Linked DNA regions of Homo sapiens. The protein of the gene in region 6 interacts with the protein of the main gene of each other region in a pairwise test. Each region holds a gene or a part of one and is shown on either strand. Other genes may lie near its edges.

Region 1 (3,500 bases), on a different chromosome or scaffold from region 6:
AAAAAAAAAAAAAAAAAGAACTGAAAAATAAAAAAAATAGAGTTCCTGTTTCCCTGTACAGTGACCAAACTTGGTATACCAGACTTCAAATTTTCCCAATGATAAGAATAAAATGTTGGCCAGGCATGGTGGCTCACACCTGTAATGCCAGCACTTTGGGAGTCCAAGGCGGGTGGATCACCTGAGGTCGGGAGTTGGAAACCAGCCTGGCCAACATGGTGAAACCCGTCTCTACTAAAAATACAAAAAATTAGCCAGGTGTGGTGGTGCGCATCTGTAATCCCAGCTACTTGGGAGGCCACAGCGGGAGAATCGTTTGAACCTGGGAGGCAGAGGCTGCAATGAGCTGAGATCACGCCCCTGCACCCTGGCCTGGGTGAAACAGCAAGACTCCATCTCAAAAAAAACAGAATGAAATGTTATCTTTCTACTTTGAAAGTCTTTATTAGTGACAGTGAATATCTCTTCCTGTATCTATTAGCTATGTGAATTATAACCTTTGTGAAGTCATGTTCTTTATTCATTTTATTAACCCTGTTAGTAGTTCCTGATATAATTCTAGATACTGATTCTTTGGTCAATGTAACTCAGGATGGAGTTAAAGGTTAAAAAAAGATTACTAAAATTCACAACGTCAGCTAAAACATGACATTGTGAATTATTTTATTTTATTTATTTGTTTTGAGATGGAGTCTCGCTCTTGTCACCCAGGCTGGAGTGCAATAGTGCTCACTGCAACCTCTGCCTCCTGGGCTCAAGTGATTTTCCTGACTCGGCTTCCTGAGTAGCTAAGATTACAGGCGCATGTCACCACACTCGGCTAATTTTTGTATTTTTAGTTGAGACGGGGTTTCACCATATTGGCCAGGCTGATCTCCAATTCTTGACCTCAAGTGATCCACACACCTTGGCCTCCAAAAGTGCTGGGATTACTGGGATTACAGGTGTGAGCCACCGCCCCCAGCCTGCTAATTATTTTAATAGTAACCTTCTTTTTTTTTTTTTTTTTTTTTTTTGGAGACAAGGTCTTGCTCTGTGGCCCAGGCTGGAGTGCAGTGCTGCTCCATCATTCAGGGCTCAAGTGATCCTCCCATCTCAGCCTCCCAAGTAGCTAGGCCTGCAGGTATGCACAACCACACCCAGTTAATTTTTTTATTTAGTAAGTGATTTTTTAACCATTAACTCCATAAATTTTGACAGTGGTAATTTCCCCCAAAATGCTAAACATCATTTTTCCACTTATCTTTAATAAGCCATGTAAGAAAATTCACCTAAAAGGCACAAAAAATAAATGTAATCAATTTAATTACACAACAGATAAAGCAATTTCTGCCTCTTCTTTTAAACATATTTGACCCTTTCTAAAATGGATTATAATCATGTCATTTATCCTCCAAACAGGAAACTGAGAAATACTTACATGTTCCATTTATATTAAGACCACAAGTCCTGTGCACATATTTCTAAGTATAATAGCAAATAATATTTTATTTACCTTTTCAACTTGGAGTATCTCCTAAAGTTTCTCAATATCCTTCATTTCTCCCAATATTACACAATGTCCTAAACTTTAAAAATAAATTCTGCCATACAAGTGCCTAAAACATTAAAATTTAAATATTTTCACCAAAGAAGTAAAATATAATGGATATTAACTGTGATATAAAGAAAGGAAAATCATTAGATGCTAGTTTTAGCATCTAATTTCACCAGTCCACAGGTACAAATGCTCAGAAAATGATAAACAGAGATAATTCTTACTATCACTATGATTTATGAGCTTACATTAGCCATACTCTACTTGTCAAACTCTAACATAGTTACCTCTGCTCTGAACATTTCAGGATTCTAGTTAAAGATACATAGTTTCCTTCCACTGTCCCTTTGCTTACAGTTGGAACAGATTTTCTGCAAGCCACATATAAGGCACATGCTAACCAATGAAGATCATTTCCCTGTAAAAGAAAAGAAAATTGATTTTTAGTTAAAAAGCTACATATAAATATTTCAATATTTTTAAAAGTATGTTTAAATTGAAAGTGTTGTTTATATTTTTGTGGGAAACTTAGTTTCAATGATGACCCTATCTCATACGCTCTTTTTTTTTTTTTTTTTTTTTTTTTTTTTGAGATGGAATCTTGCTCTGTCACCCAGGCTGGAGTGCAGTGGCGCAATCTTGGCTCACTGCAACCTCCACCTCCCAGGTTCAAGCACTCCTCCTACCTCAGCCTCCCAAGTAGCTGGGACTACAGAAGTGCGCCACCATACCTGGCTAATTTTTGTATTTTTTGTAGAGACAGGGTTTTGTCATGTTGCCCAGGCTGGTCTTGAACTCCTGGCCTCAAGTGATCCATCCGCCTTGGCCTTCCAAAGTGCTGGGATTACAGGTGTGAGCCACTGTACCCAGCCCCGTAGGCTCTTCTTATAATGTGACATTAACATTATTCCACTGAGAGGTAGAGAGGGTTCCCTCACCTTGGACCTGGGCAAGGGTCTGCGTTCCCTCACACTGATTAACTGTCTCTATCAATAATTGCAGAGGTAGAAGTGAAACTATGTAATTCTAAAAGATTATACAAGGCAGTATAGATTCCACTTGGTTCTCTCTCTTAGGACATGTGCCTTCGGAGTCCTGAACCAACATGTAAGAATTTAGCTACCCTGGATCACCATGCTGGTGAGACCACATGGAACAAACATACAGAGATGCCCAACGAGCTCCAGCTGTGCCAGTACCTAGTTGCTCAAGTCTTCCAGGTGAGGTACCAGTCATTTTGACGCAGAAACATGACATCCACACTGTCCCCAGCCTGAATTCCTTACTCACAGAACCTGTGACCAAAACAAATTGCTTTCTGCCCCTAAGTTTTAAGGCAATTTGCTATATAGCCATAGTAATGCAAACAATATTATTGTTTATTTTTATTTATTTTTTATTTTTTTTGAGATGGAGTCTCACTGTGTCACCCAGGCTGGAGTACAGTGGCTCCATCTTGGCTCACTCCAAGCTCTGCCTCCCAGGTTCACACCATTCTCCTGCCTCAGCCTCCTGAGTAGCTGGGACTACAGGTGCCCACCACCACGCTCAGCTAATTTTTTGTATTTTTAGTAGAGACTGGGTTTCAATGTGTTAGCCAGGATGGTCTTGATCTCCTGACCTCGTGACTCGCCCACCTAGACCTCCCAAAGTGCTGGGATTACAGGCGTGAGCCCCTGCGCCTGGCCTATTGTTTATATTTTTAATCTTGCTCAAAATCTAGAAAAGTGATAGAAATACAAAATTAAGCTTGAATGGATATTCAGCCACTAATTTTATACCTAATCAAAACACATACATGAATACATAAAATTTATTTGTATAACCAAATGAGACTATTGTGGATCCACTACCAGATATCATTCAAAAATAATAATTTTTAAGGCATTGTTTGTAAAAGATCGTCACAATTCTTTTTACTCAAGAAGTGATACAACTTTCCTCTCCCTATAAAAGCGAGGAA
Region 2 (3,500 bases), on a different chromosome or scaffold from region 6:
TAAGATTGCTAATCTGGCTATAGAAGGACTAATGTTAGCCACCTCAGAGACATTCATTCATTTTAAGAAACATCATCTTTCACTGAATATAATATGACATTTTTTAGAAGGCACAGCATATATGTACCATAAAGAGCCATCTCAACTCTGACATAAACTTTGTTATCATACAGCATGTTTATTTTATGCGAATGAAAGAGCTCTTTTAGATGTATTTAGACACAAATATATCATATAACCCCCTTGCTCATTCAACAGAAACAAAATATAGGCAAAATAAATTCAGGAAAGTCTTCCTAAAACTTTTTCACACCCAAGGGTTTGACTCTTCTGAATCTCTTTTGTTAGAAACTTCTTATTTTGAAATAATTCCGAGTTTATAAAAAAGAAAGATAGCACAGAGAGTCAATGTTGCTGGTCTACATACCACACTTTGAATAGCAAGCCTGTAGCAGAATATCTAAAGTAAGTACCAGAATTGCTATTTACCACCTGTGTGATGTCTGACCTGCAGTGTCTTTATTTGGAATTTGGGATAACAATTCCCCTTACCTTCCAGGGTTGTTATGAGTAGCATATGAGGAAAATCCACAGAAGTCCTTAGCAAACTGTCAAGTACTTCACAAATACCCGTTGCAGATGCATTCCTTGCCCTCAAGGCATTTACAGTCTAGTTAATAATTCTTTACAGTTATTTGGTGCAGCATAGTCCGCATAGTTTACACAGTGCTTTCATATCTGTTATGTAATTTGACCTTCTCAATAATCCTGTGAAGGTATGAAATTGTACCTTCATTTATTATATACATTCTCCTGAAGTTTTGAGGGGGTTGTTTTTTCACAGTGGCCAAGCCTGCTTTGAACCTGTCGGGTTGGCCTTGGCCTTGTCAGTGCTCTTTACTGTGGGAACTTCATATCATATGAATGGGGCTTTGTCAACACAGGGTTCCTAGGTCTGTTTCACCTGAAATGAACCTTTCTTATTTTTCAGACACAAAACTTCTCTGCAACTCTGGCCTGCTTTTGGGACCAGAGGCCCCTCCCTGGATTCCCGGGACTGCTCCTCTCCCTGGTAACCCTCTCCTGGTAGGGACATTGATGGGGGTGAGGCTTACTGTTAGCTCCAGCTGTTTCTAATTAACTTTGACTGCTCTCCTCTGTAAAACAGTAAAGGCAATTCAACACATTAGCTTTTTCAAAAGGGCCATATCATTTTGCCATTAATCCAACTTGGGATAAAACAGAGGTCAACTATTTAACACAATCAATTTTAAGTAAAAAAAATAAATAAGTAAACGTTTCCCCCCCTCCCCCCATTATCATCCTGGCTTTTTTCTTCTGATCTCATTTTCTCTCAGAGGCCTGGTGGAGGAGACGGTCTTGATTGACCTGGAAAAGCCATATATGACAGGCTGGGGGAAGCTTCCCTTGAACATTTCTAGTCCTCCACTGCTATCCCCACATAAGAGTAAAAGACTCACTGGGAAATCTTTGAAATTACCTTAAATAAGTGGGCTTATTAATTCACATATACCTAAGTCTCCTTCCATTTCAAAGCTTTCTAATTGTGCCACTCCTAAATTTCAAATAAAGGTTACACTCATATTCCCTGGCTTAAAAATTTTTTTGACGATAATTCAGGGTTCCCCAGCTGCTAAAAACAAGATGTTATTTGTCTAACAATGAAAAACACAGATGAGGTCAGATTGTTTGTGGGGTAGGGGTGGCTTGAGGTAAAGGAAGCATCATAATCTCATCCACTGTAGGGAGGAATTTTGAATCAGTGAAGGCTAGCTGGCCTTGGACTCCATCCAAGGGTGTTCTGTCACTGAACTATCCAAGAGAGCCTTATAAGGCGGTTTCTTCTAGAAGGCCAGTCTACAGTGGACCCCGAGGGCAGGCTCTAGGGACAGGATGGAAATCGTATTTCAGGATGTTAACAAATGCCTGCTCAGCTTAATCATTCCATCTCAAAGCTGTATAGTTTAAGAGATTTAAAAATTATAAAATCCTCCCCCAGATGTGGCCCCTCCCCCTCAAGTTATTTCTCAGCTCTCCTAAAGAGAGTCTCCTGACTTCTGCCTGAACACGGTATCCTATTCAATAGTTTTTACTGGAAAGTTCTTCCTGCTGTGTCATCTAAATGTGCCTTGTGGCTATTTAATTCCAGGCCTTTTAATGCTGTCCTCCTGAAGAACTGTATTAAGAGAATAATTTTTCAGGCATCTTCCATTTAATAACTAATTCCCAAACGATGAAGAAACATTAACTTGTTCTTTAGATTACTTTCCTCTGAAAGAATCCTAAGTCCTCTAAGGCCCCACTTTGTCCTTCAGTTTTTCAAATCTTTCCTAAAATGCAGTGATTGAAACTGGACAAAATGATTATAAAGAACCAGTGATTCATTCAATATTCTAGAAATTTCTGTGCTCAAGAAGGGCAGCTGAGGCCAGAAAAATTTTAAAGCATTTCTACTGGACTGGAGCAGACTCTTAGGGAAGGTGACTTTTTCTGTTTCTGATCTGAAAGCAGAGAGAAGGAGTAATAGGGACTTTAGGGGGAAGAGACTCCTGAAAGGAGCAAGTGGTGGTAATTTGGAGGCAGGACTGGCTAATAAGGCAAGCGAGGTGAAGGCACTTTATGAGCAGTCACCGAATAAGAAAAAGCTCCACAAGGGCTTTTCACTCCCAAGTAGCAAGCAGCTTGCCATGGCAGGCTGGGAACCCAGATTTGACAATGCTTCTAAGATCAGAGAGGGAAGTCTTGGGAAGGAGTGTAGGCATCTGTTGTTGTGATTACAGTAACAGCTTCCTTATGGGAGTCTCTGACTGCAGTCTCACCCCCTTCCAATCCATTCTCCCAACAGCAGCCAACAAAGCTTTTCTAAAAGCACAAATCCAGCTCCATCACTCAGCGCTCCCATTGCTCTGTGACAGCGTCTCAGCTCCTTAAGGGGTCACAGGCCCTCCCCTATCACTGGGCTCTGTCACGCAGCCAGCTGCCTCCTTCTCCCTAGGCAGTCCCACCAAACCTCATGCGAGTCCTTCTGCTGGCTATGCTCTGGTTATCTCCTTTCTCTTAAAAAATTGTTTTAACTGATAACTGAAAATTGTATATATATGGTATACAACATGATGTTCTGATGCATGTAGACATTTTGGAATGGCTAAATCAGGCTATTTAACATATGCATTACCTCATACACTTTTTTGTGTGTGTGGTAACAACATTTAAAGTCTATGATCTTAGAACTTTTCTTTTTTTTTTTTCTTTTCTTTTTTTTTTTTTTTTGAGGCAGGGTCTTGCCCTGTTACCCAGGCTGGAGTGCAGTGGTATGATCATGGCTCACTGCAGATTTGACCTCCTGGGCTCAAGTAATCCTCCCGCCTCAGCCTACCAAGTAGCTGGGACTACAGGTGTGTGCCACCACACCCAGCTAATTTTTTTATTTTTTTTATAGAGACGAGGTCTCACTATGTTGCCCAGGCTGGCAATTTTCA
Region 3 (3,500 bases), on a different chromosome or scaffold from region 6:
CAGTTTGGCATCATCTATAAAAGTTAAAATTGTGCGTGCATGTGCACACAAACTCCTTGACCCAGAACTCCACTCATAGACACATACGCCCAATAATGAGTGTAAATGTTCAATTGCACCATTCTTTGCAAGAGCCCCCAAATGTAAATGATATATTGTATTATACACACACACACACACACACACACACACACACACATATATTTTTGAGATGGAGTCTCGCTGTGTCACCCAGGCTGGAGTGCAGTGGCACACTCTCAGCTCACTGCAACCTCTGCCTCCTGGGTTCCAGCAATTCTTCTGCCTCAGCCTCCCAAGTAACTGGGATTATACCTGTATGCATCACCACACCTGGCTAATTTTTGTATTTTTAGTAGAGACGGGGTTTCACCATGTTGGCCAGGCTGGTCTTGAACTCCTGACCTCAGGTTCAGGTGATCCACCCACCTTGGCCTCCCAAAGTGCTGAGATTACAGGTGTTAGCCACCACGCCCGGACTATACTGTATTTTATATATATATATAAATGTCCATCAATAATAGAATGGAAAAATAAGTCATGGTATATTTATACCATGGAACACTATATGGCAACAAATCATAGTCACACCCAACACAGGTAAATCTCACAATGTTTGGAAAAAGAAGCAAGACAAAAAAGAGCACATACTCGATGATTCATTTATACTAAATTTAAAAAACAGGTAAAATTAAACTATAGTGATGAGGGAGGCATGCCTAAGCAGTAAAAGTATAAAGAAAACAAGAAAGTAAATAGACTTTCTTGAGACAGGATAATGGTAACCCTCAGAGGGCAGTGAGGGGACAATGATTTCAAGTGGACACAACAGGAGCTCCTGGAGTCCTAGCAATCTTACGTTTCTTGACCTAGTTTCTAGTTACACAGCTGAGCTGTTCTCTTTACATAAATCATTCAGTGTTTATTTTTGTTCCAGGCACTTTTCTTGATGTGTTATATTTCACAATAAAAAAGTCTAAAAAAAGACTCAGGGGCAGGTTAAACAGATTAGACAAAGCCAAATAAAGAAAAAGGGAATTGTAAAAGAGACCAGAAGAAATCGTATATAATGAATCTAGAGAGACTAAGATATGTTAAATATTAAATTCCAGCAAGAAAGAAGAAAGGATAAAGACAATCTTTAAAGAGAAATTTTAAATTGATAAAACATCAATCCTATTATCCAGATATTTTTCTGAATCCCAAGCTAGAAATAAAACACCTAGACTCATCATAGTGAACCTTCAGAACCATAAACTCAAAGAGAAGATCTTAAGAAGAGATATGAAAAAATTACATTACTTACAAAGAATCAAGGTATAGACTGACAGTTATCTTCAACAGCAATAACGGAAGCCAGAAGGCAATGGAATACTATCCTGAAAATGATAAACTGCCAAACCAGAACTTTACACCCAGAGAAAATCTCTTTAAGATTAAAATCAAAATACAGACATTTTCAAAATGATGAAGTTTATTATCAATGGGCCCTAAACTGTTAAAGAACGATTTTAAGGAAAATGATCCCCAAAAGAAGGTCAGAGATATAAGAAAAATGTAAGCAAAGAAAAAGGTAAATACAAGGTCAGGAGATCGAGACCACCCTGGCTAACACAGTGAAACCCTGTCTCTACTAAAAATAGAAAAAATTAGACGGGCATTGTGGCACACACCTGTACTCCCAGCTACTCAGGAGGCTGAGGCAGGAGAATCACTTGAACCCGGGAGGCAAAGGTTGCAGTGAGTCAAGATTGCACTAATGTACTCCAGCCTTGGAGACTCTGTCTCAAAAAAAAAACAAAAAAAAAGGTAAATACAGCTGGATGCAGTGGCTTATGCTTGTAGGAGGACCAAGTGAGAGGATCACTTGAGGCCAGGAGTTGAAGACCAGCCAGGGCAACACAACAAGACCCCATTTCTACAAAAAAAAAAAAAAAAAAAATTATCCAGGTGCAGTGGCACATGCCTGTAGTCCCAGTTACTCAGGAGGCTGAGGCAGGAGGATCACTTGAGCCCAGGAGTTTGAGGCTGCAGTGAGCCATGCTCACACAACTGCACAACAAAGCAAGACCTCATCTCTTAAAAAAAAAAAAAAAAAAAAAAAAAGGGCCCAGCATGGTAGCTCACACACACCTGTAACCCCAGCACATTTTGGGAGGCCAAGGCAGGAGGATCACTTGAGCCTAGGAGTTTGGGACCAGCCTGGGCAACACAGCAAAATCCTGTCTCTGTGAAAAAGAGATGGCATGTGGTGGCTCACACCTGTAATCCCAGCTACTCAGGAGGGAGGATTACTTGGGCCTGGGAGGTTAAGGCTGCAGTTAGCTGTGATCGCACAACTGCATTCCAGCCTGGGCAAAAGAGCAAGACCCCATCTACAAAAAAAAAAAAAAAAGAAAAGAAGAAGAATACAGGAAGGTAAACACTTTGGTAAATCTAAACAAATATTGACTATAAAACAACAACATAGGCCAGGCACGGTTGCTCACGCCTGTAATCTCAGCACTTTGTGGGACTGAGGCGAATGGATTGCTTGAGTCCAAGAGTTTGAAACCAGCCCGGACCACACCGCAAAACCCCGTCTCTACTAAAAATACAAAAAAATTAGCCAGGTGTGGTGGCGCACACCTGTAGTTCCAGCTACTCAGGAGGCTGAGGTGAGACAATCATCTGAGCCCAGGGAGGTCAAGGCTAAAGTGAGCCAAAATCCCACCACTGCACTCCAGCCTGGGTGACAGAGTAAGATCTTGTCTCAAAAAAAAAAAAAAAAAAAAAAAAAATCAAGAACCATTGGAACCAAGTGACAGTGGTGGCACATACCTGTAGTCCTAGCTACATGGGAGGCTGAGACAGAAGGATCATTTTAGCCCATGAGTTCGAGGTTCAGTGAACTATGATAAGTACCACTGCATTCCAGCCTGGGAAACAGAGTGACACCACCCTGTCTCTAAAAAAAAAAAACAATAAAGAAGAACAAAAATAATAATCGAATAAACATTTACATAAAAGTGAATGAAAAGGAAAGCAAAACAGGAATGGAGGAATAAATAGAGCAAGAATGGATGATTTTTCATTTCTGTCTTCGTTTTTTCTTTTTTTGAGACAGGGTCTCACTTGCTCTGTCGCTCAGGTTGGAATGCAGTGGCGTGATCTCGGCTCACTGCAACCTCCACCTCCTGGGCTCAAGCAATTCTCCTGCCTCAGCCTCCCAAGTAGCTAGGATTACAGGCGCCTGCTACCACGCCTGGCTAATTTTTGTATTTTTAGTAGAGGGGAGGATTTCACCATGCTTGCCAGGCTGGTCTCGAACTCCTGACCTCAAGTGATCTGCCCGCCTCGGCCTCCCAAAGTGCTAGGATTACAGGCGTGGGCTACCGCGCCCAGCCTATTTTTGTTTTCTATTCATCTCTTAAATTTATTCTATCTTATTTTTACAAGGAAGGAAGCCATGAATGACTTTTTCATTGAGTTTTTTATGACAG
Region 4 (3,500 bases), on a different chromosome or scaffold from region 6:
GCAGATAGAGGGAAGTTGGAGCAAGCATTTCATTATCAAGAGAGAGAGAAGGTTAGGATGAAAGAGATGAGCAGAGGCAAATCTTAAGTGTTGACACCATGATTGAAAAGGTTAACCCATACACATTATATATCAACCTGGATAGCAGAGAGTTTCTAATGGAAAGTCTGCACTGATGGAGGTTTACGGGAGTTTCAATACACTGAGCATGATGTCTTCTTAGATATACAATCAAATCCTCTTAACCCTTTTGATGACTCATATCTGAAGATATGATTAAAGTACAAAAGAGTTCTTCATATAATTTCAAGGACACAATGCATTTAAACTCCAGTCATGAATTGTATCTTTTTTTTTTTTATGATGAACCTAGTAATCTGATAAAATGTGTGTAGAACAGAATTGTATTTGCTAGAGGTGTAAGTCAATATTTTGATTAAATCTGGGGCATCCTCTGCGGTAGGCAGAAGTTTGTTGTCCCACAAAAAGGATTTTTCCCAGATTATGTAAATCACTCAGAAAATCTGAGGCTTGAGCCTAAGAATTCAGCCTGTCAAATGCATTCCAAAGGGATGCCCAGAGTCTGGGGGTGTTTTTCTTTCTTTTTCTTTGGTTTAGGATTATTCACTGGTGTCAACCGTTATTCTTTGTTTCAGGTTATTTGGAAATAGCGGTGCTTGCAGCGCTTGCGGACAGTCGATTCCTGCGAGTGAACTCGTCATGAGGGCGCAAGGCAATGTGTATCATCTTAAGGTAGTATTTGCATCTCTCTTTTTTTTTTAAAAAAAAAATCATACCTTTCCTACCTACATGGGGGCAAAGCATTTCTCCTTGGTATGAACTGTTTTCTCAAGCTGCAGACACTTGAAGGAATGATTGAAATTGTAGCATGGCAGTGATGGTTACACATCCACATGCACAGACCACGCTTCCCCTATGCCACAGACAGAAGTACACATGTATTTGGATTTGTCCCCATTTAGCCTGGTCCAGTTGATAGCAATTTGGCTTACTGTTTTCTGGAGATCTGTCAAAGGAAGAAAAAACGCTAAACCCTAAGTGTCTCTGTACTTGACAGATACCTGCTTAATAACAGGTTATAAACTTGTGACCAAAAAAAGACTTAATTTTTACCTTGTTTTCAGTGGGTTTGTTTTTCCCTTTCAGTGTTTTACATGCTCTACCTGCCGGAATCGCCTGGTCCCGGGAGATCGGTTTCACTACATCAATGGCAGTTTATTTTGTGAACATGATAGACCTACAGCTCTCATCAATGGCCATTTGAATTCACTTCAGAGCAATCCACTACTGCCAGACCAGAAGGTGAATACCCAGCAATTACTAATAAGCTTTATTAGAGCAAGTTGGAAGGTTCAACCTCTTAACCTAGCAAGAGAGTTTTCTTGGGTGGTTGTATTTTTGCATGCCCTTTTAAAGAAATGTAGATTACTAGTTGTACATAGAGTGTTCAGAAGTAGGATAGCTGATTAAATTGTGAATCCTTTCTAGTTAAAAAAAAAATCCTGACTTTGTTATATCTGTAGCTTCACTCACGTTGAACATAAGATTATCACATGCAAAAGCAAACAAAATGTAAAGCTTCCATATAACTGGTTATTTATTCCATTTGACAATTTTGAAATTCAGAAACATGATGTGATAGGTTATTGTGGAAGAAAAATTAGAACATTTATGGTAGGAAAAGAGAATAAAGATCTTTGTTATGAAAGAATGATTTCTGCGTTAGGAATAGCAATCTGGACACCTGCCTTCCAAACCCAATTTACAATTCATTTACTTTTTAGAAGAGTAATTTTACAAAACATTCTGTAACTTCATAAGAGGGCATTTTTGTTCATTGGCGGTACCATAACATTTGAATAAGTTATGGCTTTTAAAACCAAGTTCTTGTTCTTGCTAACCCGCTTAGTGCCATTAATAGTGCCATTAGAAATTATGTATCTTGATTCTTGATCCACAACTTGAAAATCCTTGTACCAGAATTAAAAATTAGGAAATTATACAAGTATACAAATCATGTAGTATTAGAAGATATTCCAGAGGGAAAATTGGTGATCAACAGTTGTCCAGCACCCCCAGTACTGGATAGTTTTAGATCTATTTTAATCTCCTTAATAAGTCCTATAGCTATGCAAGTGAGTGCATTTTGATAACTGCTGTGCCTAATTTGTAACAATTACTGTCAACCTTCAGTTAAGAGACTGTTCATTCCACACCGGCCCAGAAAAGAGTGAAATGTATGACTCGTGTGCATAATTTTATTCACATCATATTTCATACTGATTATGTATTGATGACATTGATTCATTTACTCTTTACAGCGCCACTTGCATGGATATTAAATCTTATTGACCACAGATGAATTTTAATTTCAGATTGGTGATAGATTTTTCCATCAGCTCTGATAGTATGTTTGACTTTTTCATCATTAACCCAGGCAATCACACAGCACTGAGTTATTGCATTGAAACAAAAAGTGCACACTTCACTTGGTAATTCTTTATGGATTTACAATAGGAACTTCATTAATGTCTGTTGTAAGGATCACAAAAAAAACAACATTTATCTGCAAATAGGAATTTAGCAAGCTTCAAAAATCTCGGGGAAAAAAATAGACTTTTTTGTCTTCTGTAATGCATTTTCTTAGTGCGGTGGTGGAGGTGGGGGTTTGACAAATATTTGAAAACTTTTAACCATTAAAATTATGCTGCCATATTTTGATGCTTATATTTGCCCTTTTCCCTTGCTCAAGTTTATGAGGTAATTTTAAATGTATGTTCTGTTTCTTAGTGTTAATTACATGACATTATGTGCACTTTAATTTACTAATATGGGGAGCTACATAGAATAACCATTTTAAGAATAAAAGTTGAACTTTTTAATTGCAAACTAACCAGTCACTGCTGATGAGGTATTTCAAGCTTCTTCAAGGAGTGCCAAGACATATAAATGCTTAAAGATTTTTGTGATTTGGATTCTAATGAAGTGAATCTGCAGGGCAGAGTTGAGAACAATGAATGAGCAACATAAATATTTGGAGATACCTATTCAGAATAGAGGTAAAGCTGTTTGTAGTTACACTTGGTAGCAAAAAAGAAAAAATATGCTAGAAATAAAATGGTAGACCTTCTCTCCACTCCTTCTGATGTAAAAGCTTAATTTTTCCCCGAGTTAGAGCTTCACTTTGTTGCTGGTTTTATACCATTTCTTTCTCTGACTTAGCAAAGTACTATACAAAAAAATGATTGTTGCAGTTCACCAGCATGCATGGTGAGAATGAAAGGATGTAGAGATGAGATGGAAAATGTTGCTAGATTGTGAAGCACTGAATACAGGCAATAGCAGTGTTAGGTAGGGACCAAGTATAAAGCACACCTAAGAAATATGAGCAGGATTTCATACCATCTTTTATAGTATAAGATGGCATAAATTTAGAGGTGTTAGGGAGGAGAACTGCAGAAAAACCAGGTTTACCTGTT
Region 5 (3,500 bases), on a different chromosome or scaffold from region 6:
CTTATTGACTTGACATTTACTGAATATTAACTACAGGCTATAGTAATGTACTAAAACTATGAATACTGCAGAACATAAAAAGCAGCCCTTACCACAAGCACTGTATATGAAATAACTAGGAAGCCCTTCAAATACTTTTTTTTTTTTTTTTTTGGTGATAGTCTAGCACTGTCGCCCAGGCTGGACAGTGGTGCGACCTCGGCTCACTGCAACCTCCACCTCCCAGGTTCAAGCAATTCTCCCTGCCTCAGCCTCTCAAGTAGCTGGGATTACAGGTGCCCATCACCATGCCGGGCTAATTTTTGTATTTTTTAGTAGAGACGCGGTTTCGCCACGTTGGCTAGGCTGGTCTTGAACTCCTGACCTCAGGTGATCTGCCCACCTCAGCCTCCCAAAGTGCTAGGATTACAGGCATGAGCCACCGTGCCTGGCCCCCTTCAAAGACATTTCATCAAGACCTGTAGTGATTATCCCTCTGTAAAGCTCCCTGCCTGCTTCTGACTCTCATGGTATGTACTACACTCTGAGATGTCTTATAGTCATTTGTGTATGTGTCTGATTTTTCCCAAAGATTCTTTTAATTTTTTAGAGACAGAGTCTTGCTCTGTGGCCCAGGCTGGACTGCAGTGGTATGGTCATAGCTCATTATAACCTCTAACTCCTGGGCTCAAGTGATCCTCCAGCCTCAGCAACCTGAGTAGCTGGCACTACAGGTGTACATTACCACGCCCAGCTAATTTTTTAAATTTTTTGTAGAGACAAGGTCTCACTATGTTGCCCAGGCTGATCTGGAACCCCTAGCATCAAGCAATCCTCTTGCCTTTGCCTCCCAAAGCTCTGAGATTACAGGTGTGAGCCACCGTGCCCAGACTCCCCAAAGGCTCTTGAAAACACAGACCACAACATACATCCAGCCCTCCACATCCACCGGTTCTGCATGCATGGATTCAACCAAGTATGGATCAGAAATATTTTAAAGACATAAAAATGAAAAATATCACAATTAAAAGTACCAGTAAAAAAAATAAAATATAACTATTTACAAAACATTTACAGTGCATTAGGTATTATAAGTAATCCAGAGATGATTTAAAGTATACAGGAGGATGTGCATTGGTTAAATTCAAATCCTATGTCATTTTATACATAAGGAACTTAAGCATCTGTGGATTTTGGTACCTGAGGTAAGTCCTCGGAACCACTGCCACATGGATACCAAGGGACAAGACAACTGTATTTACCTTTGGTTTTCTTTAAAGCCTAAACTCTGGAGTAAGTATTAAATAAATGCATTTGGAATGAACAGAGTGAGACTAACCAAATAGGTAAGTCATAGGGAAAGCTTTGGTAGGTTAGAATGAGTAAGGAAAACAGAACATATTAAATCTATTAAAAGACATCCATGTATAAGGTTATTCACTGCAGTACTATTTATAAAAGCAAGAAAGTAGAAATAACCTAAATGCCTATTAAGAATGGATGCCTAAACAAAGTGGGACCATTCATAATGAATACAATACAGTTGCCCAAAAAGAAAGAAAAGGGAAGAAAGAAGGAAAGGGAAAGGAAGGGAAGAGGGAAAGGAGAGGAAGGGGGACAGGAAGGAAAGGGAGGGAAGGAAGGAAGAAAAGCAAGAAAGAAAAAGACTAAAGAAGCTCCTAGTTATCTACTGATATAAAACACTACCCAAGGTAACAAAAAGATCAGCGTATGAAATAGCATGTATAGTAGTCCACCATTTATGTTTTTTTTTTTTTTTTTTTTTGAGACAAGAGTTTTGCTCTTCTTGCCCAGGCTGGAGTGCAATGGCATGATCTCGGCTCACCGCAACCTCCGCCTCCCGAGTTCAAGCGATTCTCCTGCCTCAGCCTCCCGAGTAGCTGGAATTACAGGCATGCAACCACCATGCCCGGCTAATTTTTTGTATTTTTAGTAGAGACGGAGTTTCTCTATGTTGGCCAGGCTGATCTCAAACTCCTGACCTTGGGTGATCTGCCTGCCTCAGCCTCCCAAAGTGCTGGGATTACAGACACGAGCCACCATGCCCAGCCTATGTGTTTGTTTGTTTTTTTTTAATGGGGGAAAAACATATTTACGGCTATATATGCATAAAGCAGCTCTAGAAGGATACATAAGGAACTAATAACACTGGGGGGCTGGAGAATAAGGGTGGAAGAAACTCTTCATATGTCTTTTTGTATCTTTAAAACCATGTGGATATGTTAAAATATATTGTACATATAAGAAAACTTTTTGAAAATCACTCAAAAGAACTGGACCAAAGACTAGATTTTTAAAAAATCACCAACTTCACCTACCTTTAATGGAATAGGGCTGTATCACACTAACTCCATAAAAACCTAGTTTCATAAATTTCATAAGCTTTACACTTAAACTACATAAAACTTTGCAAATTATCACTTAATGATCAGCATGGGACCACAAATCAATCCTCTAATATATGCTTTGCTTGTATTTAGTAATTTAAACATATTTTACAGCTGGGTGCAGTGGCTCACAAGGCAGGAGGATCCTTTCAGCCCAGGAGTTTCAGACCAGTGTGGGCAAGATGACAAGACCCCATCTCCACAAAAAATTGAGACCTTGTCTCAAAAAAAATTTTTTTAATTAAAAAATAAAATATTTTACCTCCTTTAGAGTCATTCTTTCCACTTCCATTTGATGGTGCTGACTCTTTATTATTGGTGGCCATATTGTCTACATCATTTTCTTCTAAAATCAAAGGATCTGGCTATTGAAAAAGAAAAATTATAAATTCTCAAACCAAGCCACTGTATAAGGTTTCATAGCAATATATGATTATACCTTTAGCTTAAGAGGGGGTAAATGTATCATCCATATCTCCTACCTCATCATCCTTTGTTGAAGACACAGCTGAGAGTAGTCGACTATTACAGAGCCGGCCATCTTGCACTGCGCTGATATCCAAGCTCATTTTGGGATTATAAGTATGTGGATAAAGAGATTCAGGAAGATGTTTACACTCTTGGGCACACTGCAATACAATGGTGTGCTTTAAGACAGGACTGACAAAATCTTAATGAATAGATGATGTTAAGTAGGATAAGGACAAGCAATACATTATACTGTAATATGGCAAAAAGTTCACAAAACTGGTTTGAAAAGTAGTTTACACTGAAAAATTTGCATCATACAAATGACAGATTGTCCTCATGTTTTAAATGTCATATCCACTGAAGTATAAAATCTGAAACCATTCCTGTGCTTTTGCAAAGGTATCAATTACCCTCCAGAGAATACCCAGGAAAAAAAAGAAACACAGATCTAAACTCTATTGATATGTTAAATTTTCCCCAAATAATTATAAACTTTCCATTCATATCACATTTTTAATTAGTACAAGGAAATGGAGAATTAGAAAGAGTATCCATTAAAGATTTGTTAAGTATTTAAGGACTAAAGATGTTAAGTTTTTGATGCCAAAGATCTGAAATGTGTACAGTTAACCAAGACTATTA
Region 6 (3,500 bases):
CATCTGCCTACAACTGCATGAGACCCTGAAACAGAACTGACCAGCCAAGCCTTTCCTGAATTCCTGAGCCACAGGAACTATGAAGATAAGAAAATGGTATTGTTTGAATCCTCTGAGTTATTCAAGTGATTCATTCATTATGTAGCAATACTATCCATAGCACTTTATTAGCCAAAATTATCTCTATAATTTCCCCTCATTAGTCCAAGTGCTAATTTCTCTTTCACATGATACTTGCATCAAATAAATTTGAGAAACTATTGTCTTCTGAATAGATTTAAAGTGGTCATACTTTAGATTTTCTCTTTTCTACAAAAATGAGAAAAACATGATCAGAGGCTAGTATCAGGAACAAAATAATCTTAAAAGCAAAGTATCCTCTTAAGAAGAGTTATTTAGTGTCATACAAGCCATAAAATGGCAATAAACTACTGTGAAGGTTTTTTCTTTTAATAGGTATTGGCTTCTCTACCCAGGTAACCATCTGCTTCATCATATGGTTTGCTATTTGTCATTGAAGAACAAATAAGGCAAAGACTACTAAAGTTTTCTTTGATTTACTGCATTTAAGGCAGCAGTAGATAAGTAGATTCAAAAGAAGCCAGGGCAAGACTATTTTATTTTTTGCTCTGAGCAGGTAGACTATAGAAAATTCAGCAGAAGATAAGGAATGCACACCCAGCCTCAATGTATTCGGCTTCTAACAAATGATCACTGGGGAATGTCTCTGCTTTTAGCACTGCTTCCCCATGTGGCAGGCCCTCGCTCTTCAATACATAAGGATGATAAATGACAACTGTTCATAGTCTAGCTGTTCTCATGTCATGTGCCTCTACAGTTAGGAATGTTGCTAAGGTACTGCTAACCAAAATCCTCCTATTGTTCTCATCTCTTCCGGAAAATCAAGACTTTGGGTAAAGAATTAATAGTTTCTCACTACAAAGGGCTGTAGACCACTAATTTGGCCAAATTGCCTTATCAGTAGAGGTGGAATACAGCAGATTAACTCAGCATATACACTATCATTCTGAATGTTAACCTGTAAAACTATACTAAGACTTCTCGGTAGATTTCTCCTTTCTTTCCTTATCAAATTTCTTTAGAAAACGTTAATTCTAACACAGGACTCAAGACTTACTGTTATACCACTTATAAAAAATTGTCTACACCAGGGATCAGCAAACTTTTTCTTAAAGGGTCAGAAAATAACTATTTTAGGCTTGTGGGGCTATAAGGTCTCTGCATCAACTACTCAACTCTGCAGCTGTATGGAACAAACAGCGATGGGCAATACATAAAGAAATGAATAAGGCTGTGCTCTGGTAGAACTTTATTTACAAAACTGGTAGCTGGCTGTCATTTGCAAATCCCTGGAAGCCATATGAATCTTTTCTGAAATGAAATTAGTTTGGTTAAAGACTTTTTTTCTGACGCACTGAAACTGAGCTTTCCTAAGAGGAACATAAAGTTAACAGAGCAGGAAAAAACCTGCTTTATGGTGAAGAGGTCACTTGAGCTAATCAGTGCAATGGTACAACTACAAACTTCACACAACGTTATTAAAAAAAATAACAAAACAAAAACAGATCTTACTTGAACTTTTTTCTCCCTTCTGCTCTTGCTTCTTCATTTTTAAGAGAACGGTTTCACTAACCAATGTACAGTCCATGTCCACTGTCTCTCCTCCTAATTTTGACTGACTGCCATCCTAAATAAATATTTTAAAAATCAAAAATTTTAACAATTATTCCTTTATGGTCTTATATTTAATTTTTACAAAACATTTTGGTAAAATATACATAACATACATTTTACAACTTTTAAGCATTAAGCTATATTTGCTTTTATACTTTACGAACAGGTAAGGATTTAGGTTTTACTGCTTATAAAACATTTTAGCTTCAATATAATCAAGCCTAGGAAAAGAAGGACTGCTGCCAAGGAAAGGGAGAATTATTTACCACTAAACACCCCTGAACTTTTCCTGCCTTTATTTTCCAATTTGCCTTATAGTAATGAACATCAATGTACACTAAGAACACTTTCAAAAATTAAATTAAATTTCTTGATAGGCATATATTACTCAGCGTATGTTAAATACTTTGTTATTAATATGCTACCAAGTGAAAGAGAACTTCTGAAACTACACAGAAGCTAAATACAAGACAAAAAACTATTTCCACTATGAATTTTAACTTTTAAAAATAGTCAACTTGGAAAATGAATTTTATGGTACATTATTTTAAAGGTAATGAAGACATGATGAATTATTTTAATGAATGATAAAATTATATAAGATATGCAGCATTTTGCATTATTTTAATTTATGAGACAGGGTCTTGCTCTGGTTGCCTAGGCTGGATGTGCAGTGGTGTGATCATACCTCACTGCAGCCTCGAATTCCTGGGTTCAAGGTATCCTCCCAACCTCAGCCTCCCAAGTAGCTAGGACTACAGGTATGCACTGCCATGCCCAGCTAACTTTAAAATTTCCTATAGAGACAGGGCCTTGCTATATTGCCCAGGCTGGTCTCGAATTCCTGGCTTCAAGTGATTCTCTCTCTTCGACCTCCCAGAGTGTTGGGATTACAGGCATGAGCCACTGCGCCTGCCCACTGCATTCTTTTAAAAACTATATTAATATTTTTCAGTAAAGGCCTTTAAAGTCAGAAAGTATTACCCTTTAAAAAATACCATAAAGTTAGAAGAATAAGCATTTTTATTTCTTAATTTTCTGCATAAATACATGTAGGTTTTAAGACGTATCTGATTATCTTAAGGTGATACAGTGAGTCACGAGAGGAGGTTGACTAACAACTCATTGGAATAAAAGTCAAATGAGTTTTGGTTTTACTTTTTAACTTACCTTTGTATCTATTACAGTAACATCCATTTTATACTGAGAAAGGTCTGCTCCCGGATCTATACTCCACTGGATATTTTCAAAGGATACATCTTAGGTAAAGGGAAAGAGCATGCAATTAAAAAACTGATTTCAAAAATTCTCATCACTTTAAAATATTATGGGACCTAAAGAATAGAAAATTTTTGCAAATCATATGTCTGGTAAAGGACTTATATCTAAGATATATAAAGAACTCTCACAGCTCCATAATAAAAAGACAAATATCCCAATTAAAGATGGGCAAAGGATCTAAATAGACAGTTCTCCAAAGAAGATATACAAATTGCCAATAAACATGAAAGGATGCTCAACATCATCAGCAGTCAAGGAAATGCAAACCAAAACCACGAGATGGCAAAAATCAAAAAGCTATAACAAGTGCTAGTGAGGAGGTGGAGATACTGGGACCCTCACATACTGCTGGTGGGAATGTGAAATGGTGTAGCTGCTTTGGAAAACAGGCAGTCTTTCAAAAGGTAAAATGTAGAATTGGCATATGGCCCAACAATTCCACTCCTAGGTATAATCCAAGAAAAATGAAAACATACATCCACACAAAAACCTGTATACAAATGTTCATAGCAGCATTGTTCATA
Region 7 (3,500 bases), on a different chromosome or scaffold from region 6:
AACTTTCTGCCTTTCAGGATTTTCCCTGATAAGAAAATGGCCAGTGCCATTATGAAGAGGGACAATGCCATGGGCCTAAGTGTATTCACACTTTTCAGTGCTCTGTGCCTGTTTGTATGGTGAGAAAATCGAACTGTTGATTTTTAAGAAAGCTAAGGAAAGTTTGGTGGTACAAAAGATCATTTCAGTTCTGGTGGTTCCGGTTTTTGCAGGCTTAGAGAAAACTGTCCATCAGGATTGTGCTGTCTTGATTTTATTTGATCATTCCCACCCTTTTCCCTTTGCTGTAGCCCCTTGACCTGTCTCCTGGGCAGTTCTTTCCTTTGCTAAATGTGAGTACAACAAGTAGGCTTTCCTTTCCTCCTAGAGAGGGGGACCTTGGAGCCCCTCCACTGGGTCAGAGAAACTTCCATAGCTGCAGCAGATCAGTAACAGGAGAGCCGAGCTTTACTCTGAAAGCCTCTATTTTCAATAATGTTGTGTTTGCTCTTTGGATAATCATTTAAATAAATAAACCTCAGTATAGGTCATGTTCTTACCTAGGTTTGCACTTAAATAGAAGGAAAAACATCTCAAACCATTTTGTTAGTTTTATAGTTCTCGTAACTACACTTTAAGCTGTGGTTTTCCACCCACAGGGATGTCATCTACATTATATGCTGGACTGTTGCCACATTGTCTTCCAAAAACTTTAATTTTAAGACACTTGAGAAGCAGGAGCTGCACTACCTGTTGCCATATACTGTGCATTCTTCAGCAACAGAGGTTTCCTTTTCACTCTTTCTGATATAATCTCATCTCTTTTATTTGATCATATCACACATTTCCACCCTGGAGCTTACTGCAGGAATGAGTAAGGGAGTCATTTTCCTGCATCTTTTTTCACGTTGGAGCACGTTTTGGAGCTTGATGAGTCTTCAGTGACATTTAACAGTGGGGCGGGACAGCTGCAGATAAAGCAAGTGCTGAAGAGTGCATTCTGTGAGAGGTAGGAAGAAAGGTGAAGGCAGTAGTTCAGCTGCTGGGAGTATGTGCTTGGCAGTGGGAGGCACGGGACTCAGCATCAGCACACCAGGAATCCAGGGCTTTCAGGATGTCTGAGTAGCAGGCAAGGTAAAGCAAGATAACAGACAACATGCATTTACAAGTAATGTTTACACATACTTTCCCTTTCTACAAAAATGGAATCATAGTCATACTATTCTGCAATTGCTTTTTTTAGTATTAAAAAAGTTACGGGAAAACATGCAAAACAAAATTTACTATTTTAACCATTTTTGAGTGTACAGTTCTGTGGCATTATGTACATTGACGTTGCTGTGCAACCATCACTACCCTTCCTTCCAAGAACTTTTTCATCTTCCCAAACTGAAACTCTGTGACCAGTAAATACCAACTCCCCATTTCTTGCAATTGCTTTTTTACTTCAACAAGCTGTCTTAGAGCGGTGTATCTGGGTTTACCTTATGTTTTTTAACCTTAGTTTTAATGGCTGCATAGTATTTCACAGTGTACATGTGATATGATTTGTACATCCAGTCCTTGACTAGTGGTTATTTGGGTTCTATTTTTTAATTATCACAAACACTTTGAACATCTCTGCCAGAGTGTTTTTTGTTTTGTTTTGTTTTTGAGACAAGGTCTCACTCTGTCACCCAGGCTGGAGTAAAGTGGTGCAATCATGGCTCACTGCAGCCTCAACCTCCTGGGGTCAGGTGATCCTTTCACCTTAGACTTCTGAGTAGCTGGGACAACAGGTACATGCCACTATGCCCGGCTAATATTTTGTATTTTTTGTAGTGACAGGGTTTCCCCATCTTGCCCAGCCTAGTGTTGAATTCCTGGCCTCAAGCGATCCGCCCTTCTCGGCCTCTCAAAGTTCTGGGATTACAGGCGCGAGCCACTGCACCCAGCTACCAGAGTTTTCATAGCTTTCTGAGTGTAGAGTTAGTATGTGCATGAGTGTTTGGGTCCATGTTCTAGTCCTAGTTCTGTCCCTTCATGGCTCTTTGACTTTGGCCCTGTCAGCGTCTTTAAGCCTCAGATTCTTAATTTATAAAATAATCCCACCTGTCTCAGAGGTTGTTGTGATAACTAAATATGAAGGCAAATGCAAATATTTCTGAAAGGATACCGATGAAATTTTTAGTGATTGTTGCTTCTGGAGAGGGAGTCTAGGCACCTGAGAATCCAGGATGAGAGGGACATTTTTTGTTGTATAGCTTTTTGTACTGTTTTGATTTTTAAAATCGTGTATGTTTTCATTTTTAAACCATTTAACACCATGCCAGGAACATAGTAGATGCTCAATGAAGTCATCATTTCCCATCATCCTGGTTCTTTTCCTCCGGACTTATACTGCTGCTAATGGCACCTAACATGGTTGCTTTTGTTTCTTCCTGTCCTTCCCTCCCTATAGCCACCTTCTTGCTGAGTTCTTACCTTCGAATTTTCTCTTGAATCCATCGTTTTCTTTTTTCACTCCTTTCTTACTGATTTCCTTTTCACCCTGGTTCTGAAAATCTTTCAAATGAACATAAGATGATAGTATTAAGACTGGGAAAGACTTGAGAGAATGCAGAGCCAGTGTCCTGTGGACTGTAAACTTATTCCAACTGGCTTGAAAAAAAAAATCTATGCACATACTAAGTGTTTGAAGTGGAACAAATGATGTTTTGTGAATGTTTCTAATTTTCATTTAACAGGTGATAAAGTACAGATTCCTTTTTTTTTTTTTTTTTTTTTTTGAGACGGAGTCTTGCTCTGTTGCCCAGGCTGGAGTGCAGTGGCATGATCTCGGCTCACTGCAGGCTCCGCCTCCCGGGTTCAAGTCATTCTCCTGCCTCAGCTTCCCAAGTAGCTAGGACTACAGGCGCCTGCCACAACACCTGGCTAATTTTTTGTATTTTTAGTAAAGACGGAGTTTCACCGTGTTAGCCAGGATGGTCTCTACCTCCTGACCTTGTGATCTGCCCGCCTCGGCCTCCCAAAGTGCTGGGATTACAGACTTGAGCCACCGCGCCTGGCTGATAAAGTACAGATTCTTTTAAAGGGTTTGTGGAATTCGTGGTAGTATTTATATAGTGCATGCTTTATCTGTTAACGTGCTAAAAAGACAATCATGGTGACATGAAGATCTAAGAAAATTTATTTAACATTTAAAAAGTGGGTTTATATGTGAAAAAGTTGGAACCTACTGAACTCATGCACTTTAGTGGGTCCCCTGCATTAGCCCTTTATTTAAATACACTGCTTCTTTATTTTACAGGACAGGATTTGCCTAGAAGGTAAAATAGTTTATTCAAGGCCGAAAGTCAGTTAACAGCAGGGTTAGGAATACAGCCCAAGATGTGGTTGTATTGTGGGGTCTCCTCTGCTATATTACGTTGGTTTGCTCTGTTACTTTATTCACATTGCATTGTTACAGTTTGTTGTGTGTATATATTTTATCTTTTTGTCTACAGTATAGAGTAAATACCTTGAGGACCAAGACCTATAGC

The links.
Region 1: the proteins of RBBP8 (region 6) and RBL2 interact in binary tests that used the Homo sapiens proteins (3 or more experiments, as listed by UniProt).
Region 2: the proteins of RBBP8 (region 6) and IGFBP7 interact in a two-hybrid assay, tested with the Homo sapiens proteins (one large-scale study listed by BioGRID and IntAct).
Region 3: the proteins of RBBP8 (region 6) and EXD2 interact in binary tests that used the Homo sapiens proteins (3 or more experiments, as listed by UniProt).
Region 4: the proteins of RBBP8 (region 6) and LMO4 interact in binary tests that used the Homo sapiens proteins (3 or more experiments, as listed by UniProt).
Region 5: the proteins of RBBP8 (region 6) and TOPBP1 interact in a two-hybrid assay, tested with the Homo sapiens proteins (one large-scale study listed by BioGRID).
Region 7: the proteins of RBBP8 (region 6) and LIMS1 interact in a two-hybrid assay, tested with the Homo sapiens proteins (2 studies listed by BioGRID and IntAct).

What each region holds. Positions count from the first base shown.
Region 1 is NC_000016.10:53,437,471-53,440,970, reverse strand, and holds part of RBL2 (retinoblastoma-like protein 2), read right to left. Parts: intron 1,956-3,500; coding exon 1,825-1,955; intron 1-1,824. UniProt on the Homo sapiens protein: Key regulator of entry into cell division. Directly involved in heterochromatin formation by maintaining overall chromatin structure and, in particular, that of constitutive heterochromatin by stabilizing histone methylation.
Region 2 is NC_000004.12:57,100,386-57,103,885, forward strand, and holds part of IGFBP7 (insulin-like growth factor-binding protein 7 isoform 1 precursor), read right to left. Parts: intron 1-3,500. UniProt on the Homo sapiens protein: Binds IGF1 and IGF2 with a relatively low affinity. Stimulates prostacyclin (PGI2) production. Stimulates cell adhesion. Acts as a ligand for CD93 to play a role in angiogenesis.
Region 3 is NC_000014.9:69,211,998-69,215,497, reverse strand, and holds part of EXD2 (exonuclease 3'-5' domain-containing protein 2), read right to left. Parts: intron 1,370-3,500; exon of another isoform or gene 1,325-1,369; intron 1-1,324. UniProt on the Homo sapiens protein: Exonuclease that has both 3'-5' exoribonuclease and exodeoxyribonuclease activities, depending on the divalent metal cation used as cofactor.
Region 4 is NC_000001.11:87,338,880-87,342,379, forward strand, and holds part of LMO4 (LIM domain transcription factor LMO4), read left to right. Parts: intron 1-656; coding exon 657-753; intron 754-1,167; coding exon 1,168-1,323; intron 1,324-3,500. UniProt on the Homo sapiens protein: Transcription cofactor. Plays a role in establishing motor neuron identity, in concert with MNX1, acting, at least in part, to disrupt LDB1-LHX3 complexes thereby negatively modulating interneuron genes in motor neurons.
Region 5 is NC_000003.12:133,620,442-133,623,941, forward strand, and holds part of TOPBP1 (DNA topoisomerase 2-binding protein 1), read right to left. Parts: intron 3,017-3,500; coding exon 2,870-3,016; intron 2,753-2,869; coding exon 2,650-2,752; intron 1-2,649. UniProt on the Homo sapiens protein: Scaffold protein that acts as a key protein-protein adapter in DNA replication and DNA repair. Composed of multiple BRCT domains, which specifically recognize and bind phosphorylated proteins, bringing proteins together into functional combinations.
Region 6 is NC_000018.10:22,995,828-22,999,327, reverse strand, and holds part of RBBP8 (DNA endonuclease RBBP8), read right to left. Parts: intron 2,955-3,500; coding exon 2,866-2,954; intron 1,709-2,865; coding exon 1,594-1,708; intron 1-1,593. UniProt on the Homo sapiens protein: Endonuclease that cooperates with the MRE11-RAD50-NBN (MRN) complex in DNA-end resection, the first step of double-strand break (DSB) repair through the homologous recombination (HR) pathway.
Region 7 is NC_000002.12:108,537,470-108,540,969, forward strand, and holds part of LIMS1 (LIM and senescent cell antigen-like-containing domain protein 1), read left to right. Parts: intron 1-3,500. UniProt on the Homo sapiens protein: Within the IPP (ILK-PINCH-PARVIN) complex, binds to F-actin, promoting F-actin bundling, a process required to generate force for actin cytoskeleton reorganization and subsequent dynamic cell adhesion events such as cell spreading and migration.